Linked DNA regions of Homo sapiens. The protein of the gene in region 5 purifies or fractionates together with the protein of the main gene of each other region. This does not show direct contact. Each region holds a gene or a part of one and is shown on either strand. Other genes may lie near its edges.

Region 1 (6,077 bases), on a different chromosome or scaffold from region 5:
TAAGTTAGGAGGAAAATATATGCAAAATAAAGCTAAATGAAACTGTCTGAATCTGGCAGTGACCAATAAGTTCCAAACCAATTGATCTAATAATCTTTAGAGAAACAGCAAAATTTACTTCAATTCTCATGATTCACAATCCTGTTTTAACTTACAGCAACTATAAATGTAGCACTTACCTTGTAAGACCACATTCGTAGTTTATGATCCTGACACAAAGCAAAGATGAAGGCATCATGCTCCACACAATGAACAGCAAGACTGAGGGGACGATCTGAAGGCGACTGGTCACCCCTAAAACATAAGACCCAGTTTTAGAGTTTTACTGCTGCAAAGAATCTGATCATTAGAATTTGCAATTCAAGAAATATAATAAAATTATAAATGTACACTCTTAGCAGAAGGACCAAGAGCTTATATGCTGGTATAAGACAACTACATTTCTATTTGGTTTATCGCCAATTACTATAATAAAATTTAAAAGGCTCTACATAACAATGGAAGACTGTTTCCTTTTATATTGTTTTCCTGTAACCATCAAAAACTTTCTATTTCTAATAATTTTACACGAAACTGGATTTGGGTAAGTCGGGGCAGAGCACTGAACTGGATATTGTGAGAATATAAACAGGCCGATTTATGCTGACAAGGCATCCAATTGCAGATGAAAGGGACTCGGGAGTGTGGCTTTCCTCAGATGGAATTTAATGTTATTCTGACTGTTCTCCTTTCCAGTATAATGTTTGCCTTGGAATAAGACTGGAAACAATAACTGCCGACCAGTGCAAAAAGATTAAATTCTTGGGCCCTTTGATTTACCTGCCAGACACCACTCACCTGATAGCTGTTGGCATCCAGCCTGTAAGCAATCGTTGCATTACTGAACTCTGTTTCAGTTCCACGACTGACACCATACCTGCAATGATATCCAAGGCACCTCTTGAACACACTTAGAGAAACCCAAAGGCAAGAATGATGTAACCATGAACAAGGTCTTTATAATAGGCAACAGACTTCCGTATTTCTGTACTAACAAAGGTTTAGGATGTAACTTTCCTGCATATATCACACCTAAAATATTTTGAATCATTATTAGATCCATAAAAATAGCATTTTTATACTTCTCATGGAAATTTTTGCCTTTTACAGACAGTAACCCATATTGCCACCCGGCAGAATCACTTCATTCTTTCTAAAACAATCACTAGGTACCTTTCATGTGCCAGGCACAGTTCTAGATGGTAGTGACATAGCAGTAAACAAAACAAATTTTAAAACTCCTGTCCTCCTGGAACTTATATTCCTTTGGGGGAAGGGGAGAAGCAGAGACAGTTAAATTAAGTAGAATGGTAGTAAGTCAGAAAAATAAGACACAAAAGGAGTACAGAGAGTGCCAGGATATAGGGAGGGCAGGCAGGGGCACTGCAATTTTGAAAAGGATGGTCAGGGAAGGCCTCAACAAGGTGACATTGAGTAAAGACCTAAAGGAGCTGAGGGAATGAGCCAAGCTAGTAGCTGACAATACCAAACAAATGCCTTGTTGAAGTAGGGGTGTTCCTGGCATATTCAAGGAATTACAAGAAGGCATGTGGCTGGTGAAGAGGGGAAGAGTGAACAGATGAAGTTGGAGACAGCAGTGGGTCACTCTAGGCCAGTGTAAGGACTCTGGGTTTATTCAGCATAACATGATATATTTGAATCCCACCTTGGGTCATGTTGGCCAGGTGCCGTGGCTCACACCTGTAATCCCAGCACTTTGGGAAGCTGAGGCAGGCGGATCACTTGAGGTCAGGAGTTCGAGACCAGCCTAGTCAATGTGGCAAAACCCCATCTCTACTAAAAATTCAAAAATTAGCCAGGTGTGGTGGTGGACACCTGTAATTCCAGCTACTTGGGAGGCTGAGACATGAGAATCACTTGAACCTGGGGGGGGCGGAGGTTGCAGTGAGCCAAGATGGCACCACTGCATTCCAGCCTGGGTGACAGTGAGACTCTGTCTCAAAAGAAAGAAAGAAAGGCCAGGTGCGGTGGCTCAAGCCTGTAATCCCAACACTTTGGGAGGCTGAGGTGGGCAGATCACAAGGTCAGGAGTTCGAGACCAGCCTGGCTAACATGGTGAAACCCTGTCTCTACTAAAAATACAAAAATTAGCTGGGTATGGTGGCAAATGCCTGTAATCCCAGCTGCTCAGGAGACTGATGCAGGAGAATCGCTTGAACCCAGGAGGTGGAGATTGCAGTGAGCTGAGATCATGCCACTGTACTCCAGCCTGGGCGACAGAGAGAAATCCCATCTCAAAAAAAAAAAAAGAATAAAAGAAAAGTTGTGTCATGTCACTGCACTACATAAAGGACGGCTTTACACAGTGCAGTGACATGACCCAACTTGGGTTTTTCTTTTTGAGATGGAGTTTCGCTCTTGTTGCCCAGGCTGGAGTGCAATGGCACGATCTTGGCTTATCGCAACCTCCACCTCTTGGGTTCAAGCGATTCTCTTGCCTCAGCCTCCCGAGTAGCTGGGATTACAGGCATGGGCCACCATGCCCAGCTAATTTTGTATTTTTAGTAGAGACGGGGTTTCTCCATGTTGGTCAGGTTGATCTCCAACTCCCAACCTCAGGTGACCCACCTGCCTTGGCCTCCCACAGTGCTGGGATTATAGACGTGAGCCACAGCGCCTGGCCCTTGGGTTTTAAATATATCAGTCCACCTGAGAAGTGTCTGAAGAGGGTTAAGACAGATCTGGGGAGATATATAGAAAGCTAATACAATAATCCAGGCAAGACACAGTGGCAACTTGGTGCAGGGTATTTAATGTCTTTGTTTCAATTAATTTAATTATAATGTTATAATGCCTCCATCTCAGGGCAGACAATTAGGCAACCCATCTCTACTACAAGATTTAGAATAGGCTGTCTTATACTTGTCTATTTGTTTTTCCGTGCTCCAATATGCTTTATAGTTCCTTATCCACTGTATAAAAGTAAAGCATTAGGGACTCATTAGGCAAGCAATAATGAATGACCAGTTCCGGGGCAGTAGAGATGCAATCCCTGCATTGGATGACGAGGTTGAACTGTTTCAATGTTAACATTCCTTGTTTAAAGTTAAATCCATGCTCAGTTCCCATTCTTACCAGGTATGTCATAAGGAGGTAGCTTAAGAACAAAGATTCCCCCAGAAGCACATGGTAAGGCAAACAGGGCCTCCCCATCACTGCTGAGCCAGGCTGTAGAGGCGGTGGAATTAGGAGATATTCCAGGTACTGCTGGAATTAACTGATAGTTGCAAGGATCTGTGAAATCAACTTTTCCAATGTCAGTGAATATTGACTGCATCTGACTGTCAACTACCAACTCCTGTTGAGTAATTAAAAAGAAAAATCTATTAAATCAAAATAACCAGAATTTTGCTCAGTTCCTCTCTATTGCTAAAAAAGTTTTTAAAGTAAAAAACTGTCAAGTTTAAGAAAGCTATTCTTCTTAATGAAAACTAATTCTCAACTTAAAATGTATGCCTGATCATTTTAAGCGGTAGCTATCAAAGTATGCTTGGTGAGGGATAACGAGAATCCAAATTTCCTTCAATTCCAAAAGACATCGCTCCAGCACTACATTTGTGACACCCAGAGTAATTTGGGAAATAAAAGATATTGCACTTAGCCAACTTACACTCCTATACATCCGGGAGGGGTGTGGTAAAAGTAACCTGTGCACTGTTTGATTGGTTAACATCAAGATTATCACACGATTCTGAGTCTCAGAGACATAAACCCCTCCAGGTAAAACACTGCAATTTTGGAATTTTAGGCGAATGGCATTATTCAACAGATTTATGTCCAGTGACTCCTCCATCAGCTCCAATGTATCTCCAGAGGTCTTCCTGTTGAAAAAGAGACATTTGTTTGAAAAGTTTATGCTTTTCTCACTGACTGTTCTACTGAAATATATGAGAACAGTGTCCAAGTGAACTCACCAAATTTGAAAATTTTGGATAAACAGATTTGGACCACTTTTGCATGCCAAATCACATTATGTACATTTATAAAAAACAGCATAACAAAATCCAAATTTCACTGTGATTCTGTTACATAGAGACATTTCCAAACTTGATAGGCCATTTATTTAGGACAATATTTTATGCAATTAACTCTACTATAATAAAAATTAACACCATACCCCGGCCATTGCTTGTAGTGGAATGTGGCCTCCATATATACTACAGCATCAAACAAAACTGACCTTAATAATTGCGGTTATTTCCTGTTTCTATTACTTCTTAACCTGCAATAGCATGCATGCGCACACATATACACACACACACACAGAATAGCAATTTTATACATGCGCTTACATGTATGTGCAAAAATATTACAAAAATAAATATTTTAATATAAAAATACCTTCGCAAATTGAACATATCAGGGTTAGTTTCTATACTAAGCTATTCTAACTTTCATTATTACTCCTCAAAAGGAGCTTGTTTATTTATTTTTTTCTTTTTTCCCCCACCCTCCCCAAAAGGAGCTTGTTTATTAATCCCAGCTGAGGAGCAAGGAGCCACTGGCAGCCACAGATCTCACTGCTGCACAGGGTTTTTAGAACTTCAGCCATAAAAATGGGCAGAATTTTCCTTGATCATATTCGTGGTACCTGTCCATTTTCTTATGCAAACTGTGATACAATCCTGACCAACCGCTCAGAATTCATCTCCACTTGGTTCACAGGCGCCACTGGCAGAGCATTTCTTTTTAACAAGGTAGTGAACCTGCAGTACAATGAAGCTCTAGATTGGGTCATGCTCACTGGCCACCACATGGTCCAACATGTGAGCTGAAAAACTGCAGCAGCAAACTGGGATGGATCTACGAGTTTGCCACCGAAGACAGCCAGTGTTACAAGGAAGGCCATGTGATCCTGGAACGTGCTCTAGTTCGAGAGATTGAGGGCTCTAAGGAGCATGTACCATCTGATAATTTTTGTTTGTTTGTTTGTTTTTTTTTTGAGACAGGGTCTCACTCTGTCAGGCTGGGGTGCAGTGGTGCAATCATAGCTCACTACAGCCTCGAACTCCTGGGCTCAGGCAATCCTCCCACCTCAACCTCCTCAGCAGCTGGGACTACAGGTGTGCACCACCACACCTGGCTAATTTTTGTATTTTTTAGTAGAGACGGGGTTTCACCATGTTGGCCAGGCTGATCTTGAACTCCTGGCCTCAAGCCTCCCAAAGTGCTACCTGCCTCGGCCTCCCAAAGTGCTGGGATTACAGGTGTGAGCCACCACACCTGGCCCTCTTACTTGACTCTTAGCAGCATTCCACATGATTACAGGTGTTAGCCACCATGCCTGGCCCTCTTACTTGATCTCTTAGCAGCATTCCACATATGTGACCTTGCCTTCCTTTTTAAACAGTCTCTTCTCATGAATCCTATGATACTACCCTCTCCCAGTTTTCCTCCCACATTCCTGTCCATTTCTTCCCCTTCTCCTTGACCTGACCCCTATATGCTAGATTTCCTCAAACCTTGATCCTGGACCATCTTCTCTCACTGTACACTTTCTCCCAAGGCACATCTTATCTACTCCCAAGGATGTAAGTACCTTTTCAGCGCTGATGATTTCCCAGAGCTACTTTGCTTCTGGTAACTCACGGCATCAGCACAATTTTCTGGATCCTCAACCTCATCTCTGAATAATTCCTTCGCTTTCCTGCCTTACGGTTAAAGTTGGATCCTGGATCTCCCGTGAGGACAGTGACCCCAGAGTTTTCTCTACCATGCCCTTTGGGGTGGGGCCTCAAGGAAAACATACAGATGTCCTTGTTCCCCACTGGCATTCTAGGCCACTGTTCCTCCTCTGCTACCCGAATCACTCAGCTCTGAAGCTCATGGAATCAGATACCACCTGCTACCCATGCTCACTGCAGTTGATTTTAGCTCCTGGCCCACTGTCACTCTCTCCCACACTACTCTCACCATAATTCTTAATGATTTCAGTATCAGGGCCAGGTACAATAGCTCATGCCTATGATCCCAGCATTTTGGGAGGCCAAGACAGGAGGATTTCTTCAGCCCAGGAG
Region 2 (6,077 bases), on a different chromosome or scaffold from region 5:
TTCTTTAGAGAAATAAAACAAAAAAAGCACATAATATAGAACTGATCAAATTCTATGATCCCATCTCAGGCTTCCCAAGCCAGCTGTCTCTAGGGGTGGCATCTATAAATACATATTCAAGAAATTCCTTAGATGATTAGCAAGTTTGGGGAATTACTGTTTTCTATTAGAATCACATTCTTTTAGTTGTCTCCTGTTTATAAGCCCTACACTCTAGCCTATTTGGTGTATTTGTTGGTTCATAATAATGCCCAGCATTTATCATTTCTTGCTCATACTGATTTCTTAATCTATAGAGCCTCATCCTTCTTGTGTCACTCTTTGCCTTTGCAAATTCAGTGCATTACTCAAACCCCAAACCAATACTACTTCCTGAGAGTCTTTTCAGCTGGAGAGAGGTTCTTCCTGCTCAGACTACTTGTAATTCTTTCTTTTTTTGGAGACAGTGTCTCGCTCTGTCCCCAAGGCTGGAGTGCAGTGGCGTGATCTCGGCTCACTGCAACCTCTGCCTTCCAGGTTCAAGAGATTCTCATGCCTCAGCCTCCCCTGAGTAGCTGGGATTACAGGCACCTGCCACCATGCCCGGCTAATTTTTGTATTTTTTTAGTAGAGACAGGGTTTCACCATGTTGGCCAGGCTGGTCTCAAACTCCTGACGACAGGTGATCCACCTGCCTCGGCCTCCCGAAGTGCTGGGGTTACAGACGTGAGCCACTGCACCCAGCCACTACTTGTATTTTTAAATGACACCTTTTAAATGTACTTATGGTATTTCCCCTATTAGAAGAGCGGGATCTGTAATCTCCAATATATTCAGTGCTTACTGTGTGCCAGGTACTACGCTAAGTCTTTATATGCTCTTATTTTGATAGGAAGTTTGCTAAATGAAAGTTAAACTAGAAATGTCTTCAAAATAACTAAAATAATAATAGCATGTTATGTTAGAAAAATTCTTGTTATAGTCATCTTCTTAATTTTAATATTCAAAAATACTAAATTTTATGATAAATAAAAAATTACGTACCTGGCTTAAAAATAAATCTACTTTCCATCATCTTTATGATTTTAAAATATCAGAATGCTTATGATTACAGAAAAAACTAGAACAGAAAATTTAATTTTCTTATTACATGAAAAAGAGACAACCCTGGAATTTGTAAAAACAGAAAATTTTAATTTTTATATAGTTTTATTAACAAGCACACAGAGAAACGCTGATATCCCTACATGTTGAAAGTGTCACGATAATATTCTGAAAAGTACAAAATTCAAATGTCTAAATTTTACATGGTAATGCAAAAGAAAAAATTACTAATAACAAGTATATTTTATTAAAAACTTCATTTATCATGAAAATTAGTGAGATTACAAAGATTAAACTATAACTGAATTTCATACCCTAATGGGTCAAGTCCCTGGTCTAGGAGCATTAGAGAGGACTCTCTGAGCTTCTGCAGCAACTTCCTTAGCTCTTCCTTAGAAAATACCTGATTTTTAAAAAGAGAAATAAGAATGAGAACAAAGACAAGTAGACAAGTATGAACTTAGTTACCTAATCGATCTGATTAGCTTCATATAAGAAGAAATGCCTCTTTAAGATTTATGTAGCCAGAGCCTAGTAAATTAGAGTGGTTCAGGAATTTCAAGGTGAATTCTCAGAGTCAGTCTATATATTTCTAACTGCTTACAAATATACACACATTTTGGGAAAAAAGTACAAACATTAAAACATTAAAACTGGACTATTACTTTAAGAAAATCCAAGAGCAATTACAAATGTAAACACATCTTCACAAAATTAATATTACTACAGAGCATATCAAATCATTAAAATTTAAAACTACAAGGCTCTAGAACTTACCAGGTACAGTTTGTGGCGCTCAGAGGATACCATATCTGCTAACTGTAGGCATTCCTGATACTGACCAGTACTGTGCAATATCGTATGAAGCAGAAAACACAACATTGGCAGACAAAGCTTTCTCAGTAAGACCATTTGATGTGTTCTTTCATGGTCTTCTTTGGCATCCTACAAACAGACATCAATAAATCATTTTAACAATTTAAGCTAAAGATCCTTACAAAAAGAAAAGCCAGGTACTGAATCAAACCCAGAATGTAATTGGTAGACAAGATTTAACAGCAAAAAAGTATGAAGATGAACAACGTAGACTACAGAGAGGTATGACAGTGAAAATAAAATGCTTCTGCATTTGTATTTCTAATAAACTTACTATGTCCTGAATAAAAACATGCATAAAAAGAATGAGTTGGAAACTGAATATCATTAGAGCAAAAATCAGAACAGAAAACAATCACCACTCCTTTGGATGTTTATACATATAAATAAAGATAGCTCTAAGGAGGCCTGAGAGGACACAACAGACTGACAGCAATGACTGTTGCTGGGAAAAAGACGATGTGGGGAGGGGCACACAGGGAGGGTCAACTTCATTGCAGACTACTTTGCTTATACACATGGAAAATGGAATTTATAATTTCTTTATATAATTTTTAAAAACAGAAAAACAGAACCTATAGATTTGAATAATACAATTAATGAGTCAGAACAGATATATAAGGAAAACAAGCAGAAAAAACAATTGGCATTCCTTTATACATACATGGATCTTTCTTAAAATCGATGTGAACAGTAAAAGTACAGAAAAAAGAGTAAACCTCTTATGCCCACTACATTTACTTACAAAAAATTTGAAAATTAAAATAATTAGAAAGTAACCAACCACATAATTTCTTTTTTTTTTCTTTTCTTTTTTAACCTTTTTCTTCTTTTCTGAGACAGCATCTCACTCTGTCGCCCAGTCTGGAATGCAGTGGTACAATCATGGCTCTCTGAAGCCTTGATCTCCGGGCTCAAGCAATCCTCCTACCTCAGCCTCCCAAGTAGCTAAGAACCACAGGCATGTGCCACCATGCCCGGCTAATTTTTCTATTTAAAAAAAAAAATAATTTTATTATTTGTAGAGATGAGGTCTCCCTATGTTGCCCAAGCTAGTATCGAACTCTTGGGCTCAAGTGATCCTCCTGCCTCAGCCTCCCAAAGTGCTGGGATTACAGAAATTACACACTACAATTTCTGAAATAATCTTAAAAATAGGAAGGAAATCAATAGCACTAATAGTGTAGAAAAAAAAAACAGGACAAGCTAAAATAATAACTGCTCCTTTGAAAAGCCTAATGGAATACCTAAAAGTATCTTCATGTGAGAGGCTATATTAAATTGCTAAAACATTTTTCAAATGGACATGTAAGTGGAGGGGTTAATCAACAACAAAGTATAATCTGGTAATTATACCAAGGAGTAATTGTACTAATTTGGGCTAATCTAGGTCAGGTTTCCAAACATAGGAAAAATTACTATCAATATTTTGGTCTTGTTTGAAGCATAAATACATAAAAGCAAATATTAAAGTGCTTCTTTACAAGGGAAGCACCTTTATTTCTTTTCTCAAATAGATACTTGCTACCTTCAGAGGTGGATTTAAAATGCTTCAAGGTTTTACTTGTAATTCATATTAGTGATCCCAACCTAGAACCCAGTAAGAATAAGAGAACTGCTTCTTTCTGGACCTTTCCATTTGTGCTCCAATGTAGTCTTTCTGTCTATGTTAAAGAGGCCGGGTGCCCCTGGCTTCTGACTCCTTGTTGCCCGAAAAGCAGCAGGTTACTTTCTTATCTCACAGGATGGACCCAGACTTGCTTTTACTAAATCCTTTTGCTGCCATAATATCAGAGTGTGCTGCAGACAATCTCTTCTGCTAATTATAATGAATTCCGATACTAGCGGGCGGGCTGCCAGCAACTATCCAGGGTAATGGCTGACAGACCCAGCAAATTGCTACAAGGAAAAGCAAATAAACAGCTCTGCTACAACTGAAGACATTTTTCTCATCTGAATGAACAAAAGCTTTGAAATAGCCGGTAAATATGTAAAACAGACGGATTATTTCCACTAGGGATATTTCCACTTTTTTTTTTTTTTTTGAGACGGAGTCTCGCTCTGTCGCCCAGGCTGGAGTGCAGTGGCGCGATCTCAGCTCACTGCAAGCTCCGCCTGCCGGGTTCACGCGATTCTCCTGCCTCAGCCTCCCGAGTAGCTGGGACTACAGGTGCCCGCCACCACACCCGGCTAATTTTTTGTATTTTTAGTAGAGATGGGGTTTTACTGTGTTAGCCAGGATGGTCTCGATCTCCTGACCTCGTGATCTGCCCACCTCAGCCTCCCAAAGTGCTGGGATTACAGGCGTGAGCCACCGCGCCCCCCCATGTAGTGCCTTACATGTGAGAAAAACTCATTACCTAATATGTGTTGATAGCAAGAGTTGATTGGAACTGATATTACAGCTATTCCTAATCTGAAGACAGTACATTCACCTCAGTAATGCAGTATCATTCATTTACTAAGTACCACTGAAAGCCTCCCATGTGCTCAGCATTATTTTAAGTGCCAGAGTCAAAGAAATAAAGAAAACAAGGTTACTCCCTTCATGAAGGTTATATTCTAATGAGGGTAGACATACAAAAAGCAAATAAATTAATATGTTTTATATCAGATTGTGCTAAGTGCTATGAAGAAAACTAATGTAGGATATGGAGATTAAAAGGGACAGGTGTGTGTGTGTGTATACACATGCATACATGCTATTTTAAATAGGGTGGTTGGGTTGGGGAGAGGTTCTTGAAAGAGATGACATTTGAGCAGCTGCTGAAAGAAGTACAAAGTCATCCATGCACCTATCTTGGCGAAGGAGCATTCTAGGCAGAGGGGAACCAATGAAGAGGCCCAGAATGCCAGGATATAGTGATGGGAGAGCAGTAGGACACAAGATTAGGGGGTTAGTTTAAAAAAAAAAGAACAAAACAAAAGTATGTATACTCTTGTACATCAAGAAAAGAAAGATTTTATTCCAAGTGCAATAAGAAGGCATCAGAAAGTTCTGGGTAAGACAGTCGCATGTATTTTATTCTGAAAGGGTCACTAGTCCATCTGTATAAGGAACGATTGTATAAAGAACAGTGAGAAGCCACGGAAGACAGTAGAGGCTTGGACTAGAATGTGCTAGAGGTAGAGGTAGTGAAAGGTAGGTAAAGATGACCTGCCTGCTCCATTCTCTCTGCCATTCCTCTGTGCCACCAGCCCCAACACTAAGGGGACTATTCCAGTTATTTAAAAACTTGAGGGGTAGCTATACGAAAACAGCACATAATGCTAGGGCTATTGTGTACAGCCGTGCCTTGTACAAGGGTGGCTGGCCAAGCAAGTAAGTGGGGCTGAAATCTAGCCTGTGTTCTGTCTTACATATTGTGTGCACTTGCCATGGAACCTATCTATGTAAGGGAAGGGAATTCCAATTTTTTTTTTTTTTTTTTGAGACGGAGTCTCCCTTTGTTGCCCAGGCTGGAGTGCAGTGGCGCAATCTTGGCTCACTGAAACCTCCGCCTCCCTGGGTTCAATCGATTCTCCTGCCTCCACCTCCCTAGTAGCTGGGATTACAGGCGCGAGCCACCACACCCGGCTAATTTTTTGTATTTTTATTTTTATTTTTGAGACAGAGTCTCGCTCTGTTGCCAGGCTGGAGTGCAGTGGCGCAATCTCGGCTCACTGCAACCTCCGCCTCCCAGGTTCAAGTGATTCTTCTGCCTCAGCCTCCCAAGTAGCTGGGACTACAGGCACGTGCCACCATGCCTGGCTAGTTTTCTGTATTTTTAGTAGAGACAGGGTTTCACCATATTGGCCAGGATGATCTTGATCTCCTGATCTTCTGATCCACCAGCCTTGGCCTCCCAAAGTGCTGGGATTCAGGCGTGAGCCACCGTGCCCGGCCAATTTTTTGTATTTTTAGTAGAGACGGAGTTTCACCATATTGGCCAGGCTGGTCTCGAATTCCTGGCCTCACGTGATCTGCCCTCCTCGGCCTCCCAAAAGTGCTGGGATTATAGGGATGAGCCACCGTTCCCAGATAGAATTACAATTTTCTAATTCACATACAAGTGACACGTGTTAGCAGGGGCCTTGAACAATGCCCTACGTCATTGACTATGTAAGAGTATTAGGCT
Region 3 (6,077 bases), on a different chromosome or scaffold from region 5:
GGTGCATGCCTGTAGTCCCAGCTACTCGGGAGGCTGAGGAACAAGAATCATTTGAACCCGGGAGGCAGAGGTTGCAGTGAGCCAAGATCACGCCACTGCACCCCAGCCTGGGTGACAGAGTGAGACTCCATCTCAAAAATAACATAACATAACATAAAATATACACTCAATGCAAATAGTCTTCACTGTTCAGTCTTTATCTGTGAATCTGCCTACTCACTAAAATTTATCTGTAACCCCCAAATCAGTATTTGTGGTACTTTCAAATCAAAATTAAGAGTGGCAAGAATATTGAGTTGCTTGACACACACTAAACAAGGCTTTCTCGTGATGCAGTTAGTGCCACATTTTTTTCATTTTTGTACATTTTCTTGGGTCCCCACGTGTAGTACTGAAGTGCTTTCTAGTGTTGCTAAGTGCAAGAACTATGGGAGGTGTTAGATAAGCTTCATTCAGACACGAATTATAGTGCTGTTGGCCCTGAGTTTTTTTTTTTTTTTTTTTTTTGAGACAGAGTCTTGCTGTCGCCCAGGCTGGAGTGCAGTGGCGCGATCTCGGCTCACTGCAAGCTCCACTTCCCAGGTTCACGCCATTCTCCTGCCTCAGCCTCCCGAGTAGCTGGGACTACAGGCGCCTGCCACCATGCCTGGCTAATTTTTTGTATTTTTAGTAGAGACGGGGTTTCACTGTGTTAGCCAGGATGGTCTTGATCTCCTGACTTCATGATCCGCCCGCCTCGGCCTCCCAAAGTGCTGGGATTACAGGCGTGAGCCACTGCGCCTGGCTGACTTCACTGTTAATGATTCAACAATATTATGTCAAGTAAGTTGTCTCCAAACAGATACACACATAAAACAAGTGATCGGTTATATATTGATTGGTTGAACAAAATATGACCAGAGGCTTGCAGGAACCTAACCCTGTATTTCCCCTAGGAGCAATGGTTCAATATTCACTAATTCAGTATTCAAGGCACTGCACTCCAGCCTGGGCAACAAGAGCAAAACTCTATCTCAAAAAAAAAAAAAAAAAAAAAAAAAAAAATCACAAATATATAAACATATACATACTGATAACTCCCAACTTTTCCTCTCTAGCCCAAACTTCCTTGTCTGAATTCCAGCTTTGTATATCCAAGTGCCTAGTCAACATCTCCACTTAGATCTTGAATAGGCATCTTAAAACGTAACATGTCGGACAGGCATGGTGCCTCACGCCTGTAATCCCAACACTTTGGGAAGCCAAGGAGGGTGGATTGCTTGGGCCCAGGAGTTTGAGACCAGCCTGGACAACATGGCAAAACCCCGTCTCCACTACAAATACAAAAATTAGTTGGACATGGTGGCACGCCTTTGTAGTCCTGGCTACTTGGGAGGCTTAGGAGGGGAGGATCACCTGAGCTTAGGCGGTCAAGGCTGCAGTGAGCTGTAATCTGACCACTGCACTCCAACATGGGCAACAGAGACTTTGTCTCAAAACAAACAAACAAACAAACAAAACAAAACACACACACACACGAGAGAAACATGTCTAAAATTAAATACCAGTTTGCCTCCAATTCACCAACCTTATCCTCCCACATTCTTCTATTTCTTGCATGCCCACATCAAATCAATCCATCAGCAAACCCCATCAACTCTCTTCAAACATATCTAGCCTACACCACCACCATCTTTTACCTGGCTTAGTACAGCAGAATCCAGACTGGCCTGTTTCCATCCTTGCTGTAGTCTCAACATGGCAGCCAGGACAGCCTTTGGGAACCTAAGTAAGATCTCAGGCTTCCTCTGCTCAGCTCTCCAATGCCCCCTCACCCCATATGGCTTAGAAGTAAAAGACTAGCTTTTACTGTGCATCAACCGTGTCAACTACTTCACCCACATTTATGTCCTTTAACTAATTTAATGATCACAACAGCCCCATGGGACAGGTATTATTATCTCCACTGGACAGATGAGGACCCTTAAGGCCGTTAAGTAGCTCACTCAAGATCTCACACCTAGTGACCGGGCACAGTGGCTCACACCTGTAATCCCAATACTTTGGGAGGCCAAGGCAACAGGACTGCTTGAGGCCAGGAGTTCAAAAAATAAAAAAATTTGGCTGGGCATGGTGGCTCAAGCCTGTAATCCCAGCACTTTGGGAGGCTGAGGCAGGCGGATCACTTGAGGTCAGGAGTTCGAGACCAGCCTGGCCAAAACAGCAAAACCCCATCTCTACTAAAAATAAAAAAATGAGCCAGGCAGGATGGCGAGAGCCTATAATCCCAGCTGAGATCGCCCCACTGCACTCTGGCCTGGGCAACAGAGTGAGACTCTGCCTCAAAAAATAAATAAATAAAAATAAAAAATAATTGGGTTAGCCGGGCGTGGCGGCTCACGCCTGTAAACCCACCACTTTGGGAGGCCAAGGCAGGCAGATCACAAGGTCAGATCGAGACCATCCTGGCTAACATGGTGAAATCCCGTCTCTACTAAACAAAATTAAAAAATTAGCCAGGCGTGGTGGCAGGCGCCCGTGGTCCCAGCTACTCGGGAGGCTGAGGCAGGAGAATGGCATGAACCCGGGAGGCGGAGCTTGCAGCGAGCCGAGATCGTGCCACTGCACTCCAGCCTGGGCAATAGAGCGAGACTCCAGCTAAAAAAAAAAAAAAAAAAAAAATTGGGATGGTGGGATGGAGGGAGGCAGGCAAATCACTTGAGGTCAGGAGTTCAAGACCAGCCTGACCAACATGATGAAACCCCATCTCTACTAAAAATACAAAAAACAAAACAAAACAAAACAAAAACCAGCTGGGCATCATGGCGTATACCTATAATCCCAGCTACTTGGTAGACTGAGACAGAACTGCTTGAACCAGGGAGGCAGAGGTTGCAGTGAACTGAGATAGCGCCACTGCACTCCAGCCTGGGCAACAGAGAAAGACGCCATCTCAAAAAATAAATAAATAAATAAAAACTTTAGCTGGTGGTGGTAACACATGTCTGTGGTCCCAGCTACTTGGGAGGCTAAAGTAGGAGGACCACTGGAGACCTGGAGGCCAAGGCTACAGTGACTGGTGATTGTGCACTGCAGCCTGGGGAACACAGTGAAACTGTATTTAAAAAAAAAAAAAAAGGCCAGGCATGGTGGCTCATGCTGGTAATCCCAGCACTTTGGGAGGCCAAGGTGGGTGAATCACAAGGTCAGGAGTTTGAGACCAGCCTGGCCAATATGGTAAAACCCCATCCCTACTAAAAATACAAAAATTAGCTGGGCATGGTGACGCGCGCCTGTAGTCCCAGCTACTCAGGAGGCTGAGGCAGAAGAATCACTTGAACCCCGGAGGCAGAGGTCGCAGTGAGCTGAGATGGCGCCACTGCACTCCAGCCTAGGTGACAGAGAGAGACTCTGTCTCAAAAAAGGAAAAAAACCCACCTCACAGCTAGTAAAAGGCAGAGCTGGAATGCTAACCCAGGCAGTGTGGCACCACAGACCATGTTGTTAGTCACCCTGCTATGTAGGCTGCAAAAAGCTAAAGTCTCAGTGACAGCCCAGGGGGCTGTCTCAGACCTGGCCTGGTATCGCTCTGTCTTTATCTCCCCAGCTCATCCCTCCCACCTACCCCTACATAGCACAGCCCCTCCTGCCCCACCCTGGCTCTAGAACACAGCATCTACAGGCCCTGCTATCTGGAATGCTTTCTTCAGCCTAGCTCTCCTCACCTCCTTCAGGTCTCACCTCCAATCTCTCATGAGGGAGGCCTTCTTCGATGCCCCTCCAGCACTTGCAGCCTCCCTCCCTTCTTGGCACCTTGGCAGAGCATTTCACTATGTGCCAGGATACATGGTACTAGCCTATGTGTTGCTGTTCTTTCTCCACACACAGGATATAAACTCCATAAAGGCAGGAATCTTTGCCTGTTTTAGTCATGGTGTCTCCTTGGTGCCTTGCAAATAGTAGGGACTCAATAAATACTCAGTGAATGACCAGGAATGGTGGCTCACACTTGCAGTTCCAACACTTTGGGAGGCCAAGGTGGAAGGATTGCTTGAGCCCAGGAGTTCAAGACCAGCCTGGGTAATACAGTGAAACCTCACCTCTACAAAAAATAAAACTAGCCAGGCGTAGTGGTGTGCGCCTGTAGTCCCAGCCACTCAGGAGGCTGAGGTGGGAGGATTGCTTGAGCCCAGGAAATCAAAGGTGCATTGTGCCATGATCGCATCACTGCACTCCCGCCCAGGCCGCAAAGCGAAACCCTGTCTCTAAACGACAACAACAAACCTTAGCGAATCAATCAGAGACTCAAACATTTGGCCCACTACTTCCTGTGAGCCACCGTGCCGGGCCGAATTCCAGGTTTTCTTTTCTTTTCTTTTTTTTTGTCCTCACAATCTGTTCCCAATTTCAGGCTTTATAAGTTTAGTTGACTTTCCATTAGCCCAGTCAACTAGCGATCTCCTCCCTGCCACCTCCCAATTGGGTCAGTCAGCAGAGGTGAATGGAAATACCTAACACATAGAAAATACATCCATATACACATATACGACATGCTGACTTCGAAACTGATGATCCAAAGTAATGTGCAAGCTCATTTACATCCAACCCTGTATGCACCCCAGCCCCTGTCAATTGGTTTTATATCATTACCCAGGCATGGTGGTTGGCACTTGTGGTCCCAGCTACTTGAGAGGCTGAGGTGGTAGGACCGCACAGGAGGCGGAGGTTGCAGTGAGCAAGATCAGGCCACTGCACAACAGCCTGGGGAACAGAGTCGGACTATCTTTTCTCTTTTATATTTTTATTTATTAATTTGTTTTGAGATGGAGGGTCTCACTTTGTTGCCCAGGCTAATCTCAAACTCCTGGGCTCAAGAGATTCCTGACTTGGCCTCCCAAAGTGCTGGCTGGAATTACAGGCATGAGCCACCGCACCCAGCCGAGACCCTGTCTCAAAAAAAAAAAAAAAAAAACGGTTTTGTATTCCTTTTTGTGTCTTCTCTTCCTTAGATCCACAAAGAAATCAAATTTCCTTTTACCCTGGAAAAGTCTTCAAAGCATTATTTTTCTTACATGGTACCTCGGTTTTAGACTCTCCCATAGAGCAGGGAAGAAAAGATCCAAAAGAGTCTCCATAGTAACAGACTCCAAAAGCCAGCCTACTGCTGGAGGCTCAGTGGGTGTCCTCAGACCCACCCGGCAGCACCAGGGACAGTAGGACACATGGTGGGAGGTGGGGGCCCGGCCTGTCTTACCAAGTTCCAGAAGCTGTCATGTTTGCTTGGATTCTCACTGCCCAGAACATCTGCCGACAAACTGTCCACCTCGCACACATGGAGCCGGACCCAGTCAAGGAGATGGAGGAGGAGAGGGCCAGCTGGGAGGAGAGACTCTCATCACACACAAAAGCCTCAGCTTCATCTGCAGCAAGTTCCTTTATCCAAGGAACAGAGAACTTTAAGGCAGACAAGCTGACTACATAGGTTTATCCCTTTTAAGCAGTCACACACATGGTCCTGAATGACAGACTGTGCTAGGAAAAAGCAAATGCACTTTCACCAAATATTACTTCTGTGCCAGGCAGCTCCATCTTTAACTGACCCCAGAAAGGGGTGAACATGGAATGCAGACCTCACTACCCCACACTCCAGATTCTTCACAAATACTTAATAGCTACATAAGTAATGGCCGTTTAGGAACCAACAATGACTAGATAGCAAGCAGCCAGGTATGCAATGATGATAAAAACATAGGGCCAGGGGGCTGGTGGTGCACACCTGGAATCCCAGCACTTTCGGAGGCTAAGGCAGGTGGATCATCTAAGCTCAGGAGTTCAAGACCAGCCTGGACAACATGGTGAAACCCTGTCTCTACTAAAAATACAAAAATTAGCCGGGCGTGGTGGCGCATGCCTGTAATTCCAGCTACTCAGGTGGCTAAGGCAGAATTGCTTGAACCCAGGAGGCAGAGGTTGCAGTGAGCCAAGATCGCACAACTGCACTCCAGCCTGGGTGACGGAGTGAGACTCTGTCTCAAAAAACAAAACAAAACAAAACATATGGCCGGGCATGGTAGTTCATGTCTGTAATCCCAGCACTT
Region 4 (6,077 bases), on a different chromosome or scaffold from region 5:
GGGTGGCTCACGCCTATAATCCCAACACTTTTGGTGGCTACAATGAGCTATGATTGAGCCACTGAATTCCAGTCTGGGCAACAGAGCAAGTCCCTGTCTCAAAAAAAATAAAAATAAAAATAACCCTCAGATAAACATTCATTGGTCACCTTTGGAAGCTGCTAGGATATCAACTCAATACTGAAAATCAATAAATAATTCAGCATTTATCTTGTTTTTCCTGTATGAATTGAATTTCAGAGAAACCAAGTAGATGGCAAGGCAAATGTCTTCATAAAAGAATCGTGACTAACCAATGCAGAACAACTAAGATTAGAAAAATCCCCATTTAGAAACCCCTTAATGAAATAAAGATCCAGGTATGGTCACTGCTGGATAAAATCACTAGGTGAAAAAGTCAATAAGGAGCTTGTAAATGGATGGGTCAGGTTGACAACACCCAAATATGATAAATAAGTGAAAGTATGGGGGAAAGAGGAAGCAACCAGCCAAAATCCAGAATAGTATATTCTATAGGACAAATGACCTTCAACAAACGACATAATAGTGGCAGTGTGGGATAGGGTTGTGGAACTTGAGACATTTCAACCAAGTGGGTGGCCCTTGCCTGGATCCTGATTTGAACAAACCTATTATGTATAAAAGACACTTCTGAGACAGTTGGGTGAAATTTAACATAAACTGGGTATTAGAGGATATTAAAGTTCATGTTGTTGGATGTTACATTGGTATAACATTAATAAAAAGTTAGAAAAAACATCACCACCCTCTAAAATTGAACTTGCAAGATAGTGAGGGAAACCCTCATCAAAGTAGAATACCAGATCAGGGTGCAGGTGCTGGCTACTCCACAGCAACAATCAGTGCTGACTGGGAGGAGGCCCAAGCGCACAGCAGGACAGACCTGATCAGACCTCAAATAAAGCCAGAGCCCATCAAAGGGCTATACGCGCAGGAGGAGGGTGTACCAGAGAAAAAAATTACTGTGGAGGCAGACAGTAAGGAAACTTTCTGACTTGCTTAACACTAGTGGAAGGAGATTCTAGTGGAAGGAATTCTCATTAGTGAGAATTCATATAGCCACTGGCTGACCCTCATGAGGTTTGGAGTCTGAATTCACACTATTTGGAATAGTCTGAAAAACCTCTAAGTCTTTGATCCAGTAATCCCATTTCAAGGACTATTTCCCTAGTTAGATGTAACTGAAAAATACAAAATGATGTATGTACAAAGTTAGTCAACGTGGCCTTGTTTGTGACTAAAAAAGTGTGGAAACAATCCAAGTGTCCAGTAGAGGGAACTGGTGGATAAATTTTGGTGCAGCTACATAGTGGAGTCTAGGCAGACCTAAAAATAATGATCTCTGTATGCTGATAGGGAGGAATCTTAGGGATTTTTTGTGTGTTGGTTTTTTGAGACAAGGTCTTACTCTGTCACCCAGGCTGAAGTGCAGTGGTAGGATCACGGCTCACTGCAGCCTCCACCTCCCAGGTTCAGGTGATCCTCCCACCTCAGCCTCCTGAGTAGCTGGAACTACAGGTGTGAGCCATTACACCCAGCTAATTTTCCTATTTTTTGTAGAGACAGGGTCTCACTATGTTGCCCAGACTGATTTTAAACTCCTGGGCTCAAGCAATCCTCCTGCCTTGGCCTCCCGAAGTGTTCGGATTATAGGCATGAGCTACTACGCCCAACCAGTTTAGACCTTTTAGTCACCTTTTCTTTTTTTTTTAATCAGCTTTCTCAGGTTAAATTAATCACCCGTTTTTTAAAAAACTTAACTCAAAAGCTAATAATTAAAAATGGAACCAGGTGAGCAGTGCCTCAGATACCTGCAAAACCTTTCTGCACAAATGTGCTCCCTGCCCTAGAAGACAAAAGGGATTGGAATGGAGAAGCCTACAACCACCCACGGGTCCTGACAAGGCTGACGGGTGGTAATCGCACCTTGGAGGCAAAGCGTAGAGAGTTGAGGGACTCGGAGACGTTCTCTTCCAGTGGAGAAATGTTCACAAACATGAGCCTATGAAAAGACAATGTGCCCAACCCCAGCATTAGGGGCCAGCAGAGCCTGGACAGGTCTCCACTGTTCCCCTTTCTACCCCTCACCCCAACACAGTTCCTACCTGACCCCTTCCATCTGTCCCTTTCACTCACATCTTAGCACTACCACCCAGAGAGTTCTGCAGCAGGTAGGTCAGTTTGCTGTTCCGGTAAGGCACGTGGGACTCCTAGATGATTGAGGTGGGGACAGATGTTTAGGAATAGGCAGGGTTCTGCACAGCCAACCCCAACTGTCCCCCAGGTCCCGTATCTCACCCCACTCCCATTCCCACCTTGTTGCTCAGGGCCATGATAACCAGCCCCAGCGTGGACAGGCTGCTGTTAATGGCCTGTGTTTCCCGAAGGCGTTCCCGCTCCCCGGGGCCGAGGGCTAAGCCGGGGTCAAGTCGCTCACTCCCGGCCAGGTCCACAAGACTGAGGGGGGCCCCACACTGCAGGCCTCGGCTGGAGTGCTCCCCAGAAATCTGTAGCTGGAATACACTGTGGCTGCGTGATGACCGTTCATTCTGGGCTGTGCGGGCCACAGCCCGATTCTGGCGGGCCAGATGAAGCAGGGCGTCCACCTGGGGATGGGAGCAGAAGGGGCAAAAAGGCAGGCAGAAGTCAGTACATAGTAATATGTATGGAAATGAATAAGAGCCCACCCCCACCCTCTTGAAGCTTTCTAGCCTGTCAAGAAACAAAATAAGATGCACAGTATGTCTGAAAATGGTAAGGAATACATAGAATAGGGAGTGTATAAAGGCGGGGTGGGGAACACAAGTTTTGACAGGATAGCCAAGATCTCCAGGAAAGAGCATCCAGGCAAAGGCCCTGAGATGGGGAGCACGACTAGCTGGTTGAGGAACAGCCAGGAGGCCAGCATGGCTAGGATGAGCTGAGCAAGAAGATGAGACATGAGATGTAGTGACCCTCCTCGTTTTGGCAGATGCATCACTCCCTCGCCACTCCCAGGTTAAGGCAGATCTACCGACAGCCCACAGGCCAAAACCGGATGTGGTAACCCAGCCTGATAACTTGCACTTCATCCTTCAATTCTCTCTTGCTCCTTTCTCCCTCTACCTCCATCTCGTGGCACCCTGCCCACTCCTCCCCATTTCCCAGTTCCAGTGCCCATGGGTCCTCACTTCTTTCTCACAGGAGACAGGGACATATCGAGCATTGGTGACAGTGAGCTCCTCACTCCCTGGCCCTGCACGGCGAATCTCACACTCGCCCCCTTGACCCTTCCGGGTTCCAGTGGCCAGCAGGTCCCGGACAGTCTCATTGTAGATCTCTACGTAGCTTGCTACAAAGCTGTAGGTCCAGCCCTGACCACTCAGCTCCTGAGCCACAGAGAAGAGGTGCCGCAGGGCCCGAGGGATCAGCCCCTCCAACTGGGGGTCTCCCCCAGGCCCACCCTCCATTGTGAAGGTCTTGCCACTGCCTGTCTGGCCATAGGCAAAGATGCATACTGGATAGCCATCCAGGGCTGACTGGACAAGCATGGCAATCTCTTCAAACACTTCATCCTGTCCACTTCCTGGTGGGAATACCCGGTCAAAGGAAAAATCATGGCGAGTTGGGGGAGCTGGTGCCCCACTCAGGGTCCCACGCCGCTCGTCAGACCGGGAGAGGCTAAGGCGGGTTGGAGGATCAGAGGGCCCACCAGGGCCAGAGGGAAACAGGAGGAGGCCAGGGGGTGGAGTGGGCTCCCCCGGCAGGACAGGGCGGACCCGGCAGAATACACGGATGTTGCCCTTGAGTTCCTGCAGCTGGTTGTGCAGTCGCCGGCGCTCCATTTCTAGCCCATGAAGACGTTCTTCCCGCTCAGTCAGTAAGGCTGCCTGGGCCACAGTCTCCTGCCGCAGAGATGCCACCTCTGCTTGGCTGCTTGACAGGGCTGCTTCTGATGTCTGCAGCCTCCTCTGCCCAGAAGAGAACACAACATACACAGAGGGTAAGATGCAACCAAGAAGAAGAACAAACTGTGGGGCGTATGGAGTGGGTGGAAGTGAGGTCCCTGCTCAAAAGGACCTCAAAGTCTGGTAAACAAAGAAAGATGAGAAAATAAGGAATCATGGTACTAAGACAGGGAGTGCTATGGGTATGTCCAAGCACAAAGAGGAGCACAAGGAAGATGATATCTAGGGTGACACCCAGAAGTACAGGAGTGAACCAAGGAAGGATGTAGTATACAAAGAACATTCCAGAAAGAGGGAAGCACATATGCAGAATGCCCAGAAGTGAAAGTTGAGTCATTTAAGAGACTGCAAATAACTTAATCTAGTTGGTGCTCACCAGGAAGGAGTCAAGTGGACATGGGAGGAGGGAAAGAGAGTACCACAGGAATTTGTGATCAGGATGGGAACCCAAAGAAAGAGGGATGGAGGACTAAGAAAGACACAGATCTAAATGAGAGCTTTGCAAACAGTCAAGGGTAGGAAGAAGCGTGGCAGAAAGCAAGACAGTCAGGAGTGGGCTGGGGTGCAGACAGGTCAAGAGAGAGGTATCTTCAGCAGCACCTATACTGCTAAAGATAGGTGCTCAGGAGTTCTCAGCCCAGACTTGAGGGGTACCTGGAAGGGAGGGGAGGCATGACCTCTGCCAGGAAAGCGGGGCTGACATCTGGTGAAAATCTGGCCCTTACCTCCTTCTCCTCTAGTTGGGACATCAGTCCCCTCCGTTCTTCCTGCAATTCCACCTGTTTTTTCTGAAGCTCTTGCACCAAGCCCTCCTGCGTGCTCAGCCGCTCTTCCAGCTCCAGGACACAAGCACGCAAGTTCTTCAGCTCCTGTTGGCCCTGCTCAGCCTGGGCCTGTACCTTGGCTAAATGCCCCTCCAGTGTTGTGCGCTCTGTCCCCAGGGCCTTGACCTGCTGCTGGGCATCTCTGAGCTGGTCCTGAAGCTGCTGGTTCTCTTGGTCCAACGTTTGAGTCCTCTCACGGCACCGTTTTAGTTCTGCATTTAGGTCACATAACTGACCCTTTAAGTCCCAGGCTGGACGTTTGCTGGGTTTCTTCCCTCCTGCCATGGGAGGAACACCTGATGCTAAGATGAACACAGAAAGGACAAAGGTCAGTGAAGTCTAGGCTCTCTATCCCTCCTCCCTTCTAGCCTTTATGGGATCCACACCTGATGCTACATCTCCTTCCCCTTAGAGACCAAATGGATTTTTCTGGTCACTCACCATCTTCTCTTCCCTATCCCAGCCTCTCACCCAGTGGTTATGTTTGTCACTTACTGCCAGACTTCTGGACAGGAACAGCAGGAACTGGCTTCTGGTTCTTCAACCCTACAGAATTGAGGAGGTGACTTAGGAATTACAGGACCAGTGTCCCTCCACCTCCATCATTCTCCCTTTACACATACCCCAAATCCCTTCTCAGACCCAGCTCTTGAGCACAGTTACCTGTGGCAATAGCTGTGGAACACCGGGGTCCTGTCTTCTTGGAAACTTTTTGAGCTGCCCAGGAGATGGGAGAGAGCAAAGGTAGAATGATCATTCTTAAGATGGCATGTACACTTGCTAGGACAGGGGCAGAAGAAGTGCTTTTCTCAGAATTAGAAATAGGATAACTTCCTTCCCTTATCCCTAAGTCTGGCCAGCTCCTAATGATACCTCCCCTAGAACCAGAAATTACAGTCATCCCTCAGTATCCAAAAGGGGTTGATTCCAGCACCCCCCAAGAATACCAAAATCCAAGGATGCCCAAGTCCCTTACATAAATAGGTATATAGTATTAAATATAGTCTATGCACACGCTCCCATATACTTTATTTATTGATTGACTGAGACAGAGTTTCACTTGTTGTCCAGGCTGAAGTGCAATGGCATGATCTCAGCTCACAGCAAACTCTACCTCCAGGGTTCAAGCGATTCTCCCGCCTCAGCCTCCCGAGTAGCTGGGATTATAGGTATGCGCCACCACGCCCAACTAATTTTGTATTTTTAGTAAAGACGGGGTTTCACCATGTTGATTAGGCTGGCCTCAAACTCCTGACCTCTGGTGATCTGCCTGCCTTGGCCTCCA
Region 5 (5,757 bases):
GTGTTTTAATCCTCAGAAACATTTAGATTGGGACACAAATCTTATTTTTTACTCTTAAATTTTTCACATTTTGGGGGACATGGTCTATATTTTTCTCAGATTTCTGATATGTTGTCTTTTAAAAATGTGTAAAAGTTACAGTTCCTTTTCTATAGTTTATTTTAAAATGTGGGTCAATAGTCCCACTGCTTAGAATAAGAGGCACACAGGATTTCAATAGAAATTGCATGCCTTTTTAGATGTGCGAATGTTTCATTAAGCGTATGAATATTTGAAGAGATGTATGACACTTTAAAAACTGTTTCCTCTACTGTGTTGGTGGCCAGGTATTAAGACTGTTAATAATAACAATTTAGCTCTCCAAATATCCTGCATCACAGGTGTTAAAGAGGACTGGAAACACCTTAGTTCTTGTATTCTTGAGGATGATTTGCCATATTGTGTCTAGTATCACGGCAAAACTCCAAGTAGCATTTTAAATAGTATTTATTTGGGTTGGAATTATTTCTATGCATTGACTCATCTTCCTGGGTTTCATTAGCTGTACGCATTGTACTTTCTTCCTTACCACTATTTATCTCGAATTCTTGAGATTAAAGTACAGATGAAATCTAAACTTTATCTGGTAAAGTTATTAGTTCTTACAAGTAGCAAGCAAACGGTAAACTAAATAGGATGACCTAATTGTACCAGATTTAAAAACAAAAACAAAAAACCCTGATTCTCCTGATTCTCTCTACAAAATGCTAACATTTAAATATGTCATTTGTAAATTGTTAACCAGAAGGAACATGGGAATGACTGTAGGTTGAGTTTGAAGTGTGAAGTTTGAAGGCTTAGTTTGCTTGTTTTCAAAGTGACAGAAGGGAGCAAAAGGTTATATAAACTCCGGTGGGTACATACAGTTGCTGTGGGATATTGACCTGCTGCTAACTTACCTGCCAGGGTTTTGCCAGGAACAGTCAGTGTTAGATCACGTTTACTTCTGCCACTTGCCACCAGCCACACTGCCTTCACCGAGTCCAAGACCCTATCACCACTGGTTGGGGCTACTTGTAGCTGTACACCTGATCTCGAAGAAATATAACTTCCCTGTTTAAAGCCCTTCCTAGTGCCCTTAAAATAAGACCCAAAGACTTCCCAAATGTGCCAGGGCCCGGCATTATTTACGTAACCCCCGGCTGCTGTTTGCTTGGCTTGCTAAACTTTTCTACAAAGTTTCTGGCCTTACTTCTGTTCCTTCACCACCCCAAGCACACGCCCTCCTGCCTGGGACCCTCTTCACCTTTGTCCTGCTGTGCCAGCTCCTTCTTATCGCCTAGGTGTCAGCTCAATCATCACCTCCTTTGCAAATCTTCCTTGACCCCTAGACCTCCCTTTCACAAAGTACCTTGAGTTTACACTTTGATGAGTGTCTTATGTCTACTGTAATACTATGTCCCAATGAAGATGTACTGGCAATCATAATACGTAGTATTGGGTTAAAAGCATTAGTTTGCTGTAGGTACGTTAGGAGTACTCCCCATGTGATTGATCAGTGAATTTAAAAATGGCTAAAGTGGGTAACCTTAAATGATGGTGCAAATATACCTTAAACATTTTATATTTTCATTGAAAACACAAGTGTACTTGACACCTCTTGATGTAGAGCAGAGGCTTTTTTTCTTCGAATATGGGGTCACCAGTAGAAGGTCTCTGGTGCATTTCCTGCATAAACTATGCTCTAGTGCAACATCTACAATAATTACTTTCCTTATTTTTGAAGTGGACCATATCTCGACATTTATTAATCAATCTGCATGTGTAAAACCTTTAGATTTTTATGAATTCCTCCTCAAGCTTTATAGTCAACTATATGAGTGGATTGCCCTCTGTGGATCTGATAGCAATTTTTTAAATGATTCACGTTTCAACTTGTTAAAAACATTTAATTTAGTTAAAAACCAAACAAAAAAGAGCTTTGTTTCTTTTCACATTCATTTCTCAGTTTAGATCATCTTTAATTAAATATAAATGTAAGAAAGTTGGAAAATGCAAAGAAACGACTCGTTGTAAGCACATAACTCACGTGGGGGGAACAGACATGGGTGGGCACACTAGCAAACACCTGCCAGCTGCATGTGGACCCAGGTGGGCACCGGACTGTTTTAAACACAGGAGAGGGCCCATTGTCTAACTGGTGAGTTGGTTGAGTGGAAGCTGGTTGAGAACTTTTACTGCAAACCATTTACAGTAGACCACAATTTTATAGTCCTGTTTGGCACTTTTTCATATCACTGGGAGCCTGAAGAAATAGAAGTGGGTTGGATCTCTTTCAGCCTCGGAAAAGCCTGCCATTCCCCCATCTAAAAACCCTTTCCCCATTCTCTTACTCTGTCTCATCATGTATGTAACATGTATCCATGTATCATCAAGTGATCTCATTTTATATTGTTTACTTGAATATTTCCTGTAACCCCCCTGTCTGATTCCACTAGAATGTGAGCTCTATGATGGCCAAGCCTCTGGCTGCACTGTGCCCCGTGTGTCCCCAGCATCCTGGTGGGGCTCAATACACAGAGAGCTCATAAGTAGCATTTGAATACATGAATCAAAGTATGGAATGGCCCAGTTTACTGCAGCCTTTTTGCAGGTGCAAAAGATGATCTTTTAGAAAGCAGAAACAGGGGGTCTGGTGCATGAGATCTTTTTCTCAATGTGACTGTGCTGTGCAGACCTTCACGTGGTGTCTTGTGAAAGACTTTGACCACTGTGTGGACTTTCCTTCAGTGTATCTTTCAGAGTGCAAGACTGGGAATGGAAAGAACTACAGAGGGACGATGTCCAAAACAAAAAATGGCATCACCTGTCAAAAATGGAGTTCCACTTCTCCCCGCAAACCTAGGTCAGACTTTTCCTTTCATCTTTGTGTTCATCTACTGTAAAGTGTCCGTCTGTGTCTGTGAGGGATTGGTTCCAGGACCCCTGTGGCTACCAAAATCCATGCTTCTCAAGTCCCTTATGTAAAATGGTGCAGTATTTGCATATAACCTACATACCTTCTCTTGTGCAATCCCTAATATAATGTAAATGCTATGTAATCGTTGTTATACTGTATTGTTTTTATTTGTATTATGTTTTATTGTCATATTGTTATTTTCTCTCATCTTTTTCAAGTCTTTTCCATCCACAGTTGGTTGAATTTGTGGATGTGGAACCCATGGATACAGAGGGCCAACTGTATTTAGGATAATTTCATCACTTTTAATTCAAACCAGAATATGTGAATAAGCAGACAGAAAGAATCTTTTTGATGTCGATGTTCAACTATTTTTGGCACCATAGTAGAACATGGTTGCTTTCTATTTTTTCTTGGGTATGGAGGTTTCTTGAAGACCTAGAACATAGAAGAATGCCTAGTTAAAAAAAAAAATCAATGAAACTACGAGTTTTAGGCCAAATCTGAGAAAAGACCAAAGATGACTATGTTTGGGACTGAAGTAAACATATCAAGTTAGAACTCTCATCACATGTTTGACTCAAATTGTGGAGCAAAATAGTAAATAAAATATAAAAATGAAAATGAAGATACGTGAAATTCAAATGTCACAACTTGCCTATTATTTATTTTAGTGCATTTTTTTGTGCTTTTCCCAGTTTGGTGTTAGGTGGCCTTAAGTTCTCAGTAATGACACTTATCAAATAGGAACTTAGTGTTACTCACCTTTATCCATTCCCCCAACACTCAACAAATTGCCTTTGCTATATCCCTATGAGATGAGCAGATCAAATATTCCCCGTGAGTTAATGAAAACTGATTCAACCAAATGGCGAAGTCAGAGACTATCGGGGGCCATGGAGACACTCTGGGCCATTTTTATGAGGTAGTCTAGGCTCATCTTCATGAGGGAACTGAGGTCTTGGGGGGTGGGGGTTACCCAAATAGGTTCACAGAAGAACCAGAAATAAAACCTGCCTTTCTAGACTGTAAGTCTTGTGATTGTCATCTAAATGGTTGTCTCTATACAGCAACTCATCTCTAGAACTGAAAATAAGTTTAAATCCCTCCTCCATCCCCAATAATTCAAGCTGCATTTCAGAGAAAACCAGGACTTTGGAATCAGACAGATCAACTTTGACTTCTTGATCTGCTTCTTCATAGCTATTTATGCTTAGGCAAGTTTTGTTTTGTTTTGTTTTACGTTGCCACTCAGTCTTCTCATCTGTAAAACAGGGATAATAACACCTTCCTCAAATGGTTTTTTTTATTAGGACTAAAAGAGAGAATGTGTGGAAAGATGTTAGTGGAATTCCTGGCACATAGTTCACATGGACAAAATGGTGTTAACTACGAAAATTTTTACAGAGAAAAGGGCAACTGACAAAAGCAGGTGTTTGGAATGAATTAAGACCATGGCAGGCTTTTGAGGCCTTTATATTTCTCCTGACTGTGCAATAAAAATATTTTGGCTCTCTGTCTAAGACTTGGCTGTCACAGTAGCAATGGTAATATTAGCTACTGTGCCAGAAGCAGCCTATCAATAGAGAAATTGAAAATCTGACCACACAAATGCTGCAGCACCCAGCTGAAATGCATTTGGATGACAATCTCAGATGGGAATCGAGAGCATCTCCTTCTGCCTTGCTAATAGCAAGCTGATTTTTAGAATATAGTCTAAGTGCTTCTCTTCCATCCTCCCCAGATTCTCACCTGCTACACACCCCTCAGAGGGACTGGAGGAATCCAGACAACGATGCGCAGGGGCCCTGGTGCTATACTACTGATCCAGAACAGAGAGATGACTACTGCGACATTCCTGAGTGTGAAGGGCAGGAGTGGCTCTAGAAAATGTTTTCATTTCTGCCCTTCACCTGTAAAATAATTTGTTGTAAAGCCCCTTCCCACAGGGATATTATTAATAATTGCGTAACGTGTTCACCTCTCGGAAAGGAGCAAAACTTTGCTCAGATCCCAGAATTAACCTGATTTTTTTTTTTTTTCTGAGACAGAATTTTGCTCTCATTGCCCAGGCTAGAGTGCAATGGTGCGATCTCAGCTCACCACAACCTCCGCCTCCGGGTTCAAGCGATTCTCCTACCTCAGCCTCCCAAGTAGCTGGAATTACATGCATGTGCCACCATGCCTGGCTAATTTTACATTTTTAGTAGAGACAGGGTTTCTCCATGTTGGTCAGGCTGGTCTTGAACTCTCGACCTCAGGTGAGCCGCCCGCCTCAGCCTCCCAAAGTGCTGGGATTACAGGCATGAGCCACCATGCCCAGCAGACCTGAATTATTATTATTAAAATGTTACATCAACATGTACAAATATAAAACTACATCTAAACTCTAAGTACAGACTTCTTATGCTTAAAACTCTTACACAGTGTTAACCCCAAGACAGATTTGCAATTAAGTAGTTAAAATAAGACAACAAAGTCAATAAAAATCAAATAAACAATATACATTTAATGTGGTAGACTTTGCTGTTTTGCTGAAGCTAAGCAAGGAACCAGTTTTTAAATCAGCAATCCGTTATTTTAATGGACTGAGCAATTTAATAGTGCACCTCAAAGGTCAATGATAAAAACTAAAAAAAAAAAATACCTACTGAAAAAACTGTCATCGTTTCACATTTCTGGCTACGTTAGTGCAAAAGGGAATAAATAAAGGTGAGATTTGTGTGACAGTGTGGATATGGTACTGTGTGACAACTCAGTTCTCCCATCACTTCCACCTGTTTGAATCATCGGGATCCTTTATTTGTACACCATGTTAT

What was found.
Region 1: the proteins of RGPD1 (region 5) and NUP160 purify together in Homo sapiens (affinity purification with mass spectrometry; one large-scale study listed by BioGRID and IntAct). This does not show direct contact.
Region 2: the proteins of RGPD1 (region 5) and NUP107 purify together in Homo sapiens (affinity purification with mass spectrometry; one large-scale study listed by BioGRID and IntAct). This does not show direct contact.
Region 3: the proteins of RGPD1 (region 5) and NUP85 purify together in Homo sapiens (affinity purification with mass spectrometry; one large-scale study listed by BioGRID and IntAct). This does not show direct contact.
Region 4: the proteins of RGPD1 (region 5) and KIFC1 purify together in Homo sapiens (affinity purification with mass spectrometry; one large-scale study listed by BioGRID and IntAct). This does not show direct contact.

What each region holds. Positions count from the first base shown.
Region 1 is NC_000011.10:47,836,708-47,842,784, forward strand, and holds part of NUP160 (nuclear pore complex protein Nup160), read right to left. Parts: intron 4,981-6,077; exon of another isoform or gene 4,537-4,980; intron 3,882-4,536; coding exon 3,671-3,881; coding exon of another isoform or gene 3,521-3,670; exon of another isoform or gene 3,359-3,520; coding exon 3,136-3,358; exon of another isoform or gene 2,794-3,135; intron 917-2,793; coding exon 838-916; intron 295-837; coding exon 180-294; intron 1-179. UniProt on the Homo sapiens protein: Functions as a component of the nuclear pore complex (NPC). Involved in poly(A)+ RNA transport.
Region 2 is NC_000012.12:68,737,764-68,743,840, reverse strand, and holds part of NUP107 (nuclear pore complex protein Nup107), read right to left. Parts: intron 2,029-6,077; coding exon 1,861-2,028; intron 1,487-1,860; coding exon 1,379-1,486; 3' UTR 1-1,378. UniProt on the Homo sapiens protein: Plays a role in the nuclear pore complex (NPC) assembly and/or maintenance. Required for the assembly of peripheral proteins into the NPC. May anchor NUP62 to the NPC. Involved in nephrogenesis.
Region 3 is NC_000017.11:75,217,463-75,223,539, reverse strand, and holds part of NUP85 (nuclear pore complex protein Nup85), read right to left. Parts: intron 5,356-6,077; coding exon 5,234-5,355; intron 1-5,233. UniProt on the Homo sapiens protein: Essential component of the nuclear pore complex (NPC) that seems to be required for NPC assembly and maintenance. As part of the NPC Nup107-160 subcomplex plays a role in RNA export and in tethering NUP96/Nup98 and NUP153 to the nucleus.
Region 4 is NC_000006.12:33,402,746-33,408,822, reverse strand, and holds part of KIFC1 (kinesin-like protein KIFC1), read right to left. Parts: intron 5,510-6,077; coding exon 5,456-5,509; intron 5,339-5,455; coding exon 5,288-5,338; intron 5,095-5,287; coding exon 4,694-5,094; intron 3,972-4,693; coding exon 3,192-3,971; intron 2,628-3,191; coding exon 2,337-2,627; intron 2,232-2,336; coding exon 2,158-2,231; intron 2,024-2,157; coding exon 1,948-2,023; intron 1-1,947. UniProt on the Homo sapiens protein: Minus end-directed microtubule-dependent motor required for bipolar spindle formation. May contribute to movement of early endocytic vesicles. Regulates cilium formation and structure.
Region 5 is NC_000002.12:87,010,132-87,015,888, reverse strand, and holds the end of RGPD1 (RANBP2-like and GRIP domain-containing protein 1), read right to left. Parts: intron 5,666-5,757; exon of another isoform or gene 3,377-5,665; coding exon 3,342-3,376; 3' UTR 1,913-3,341; downstream 1-1,912.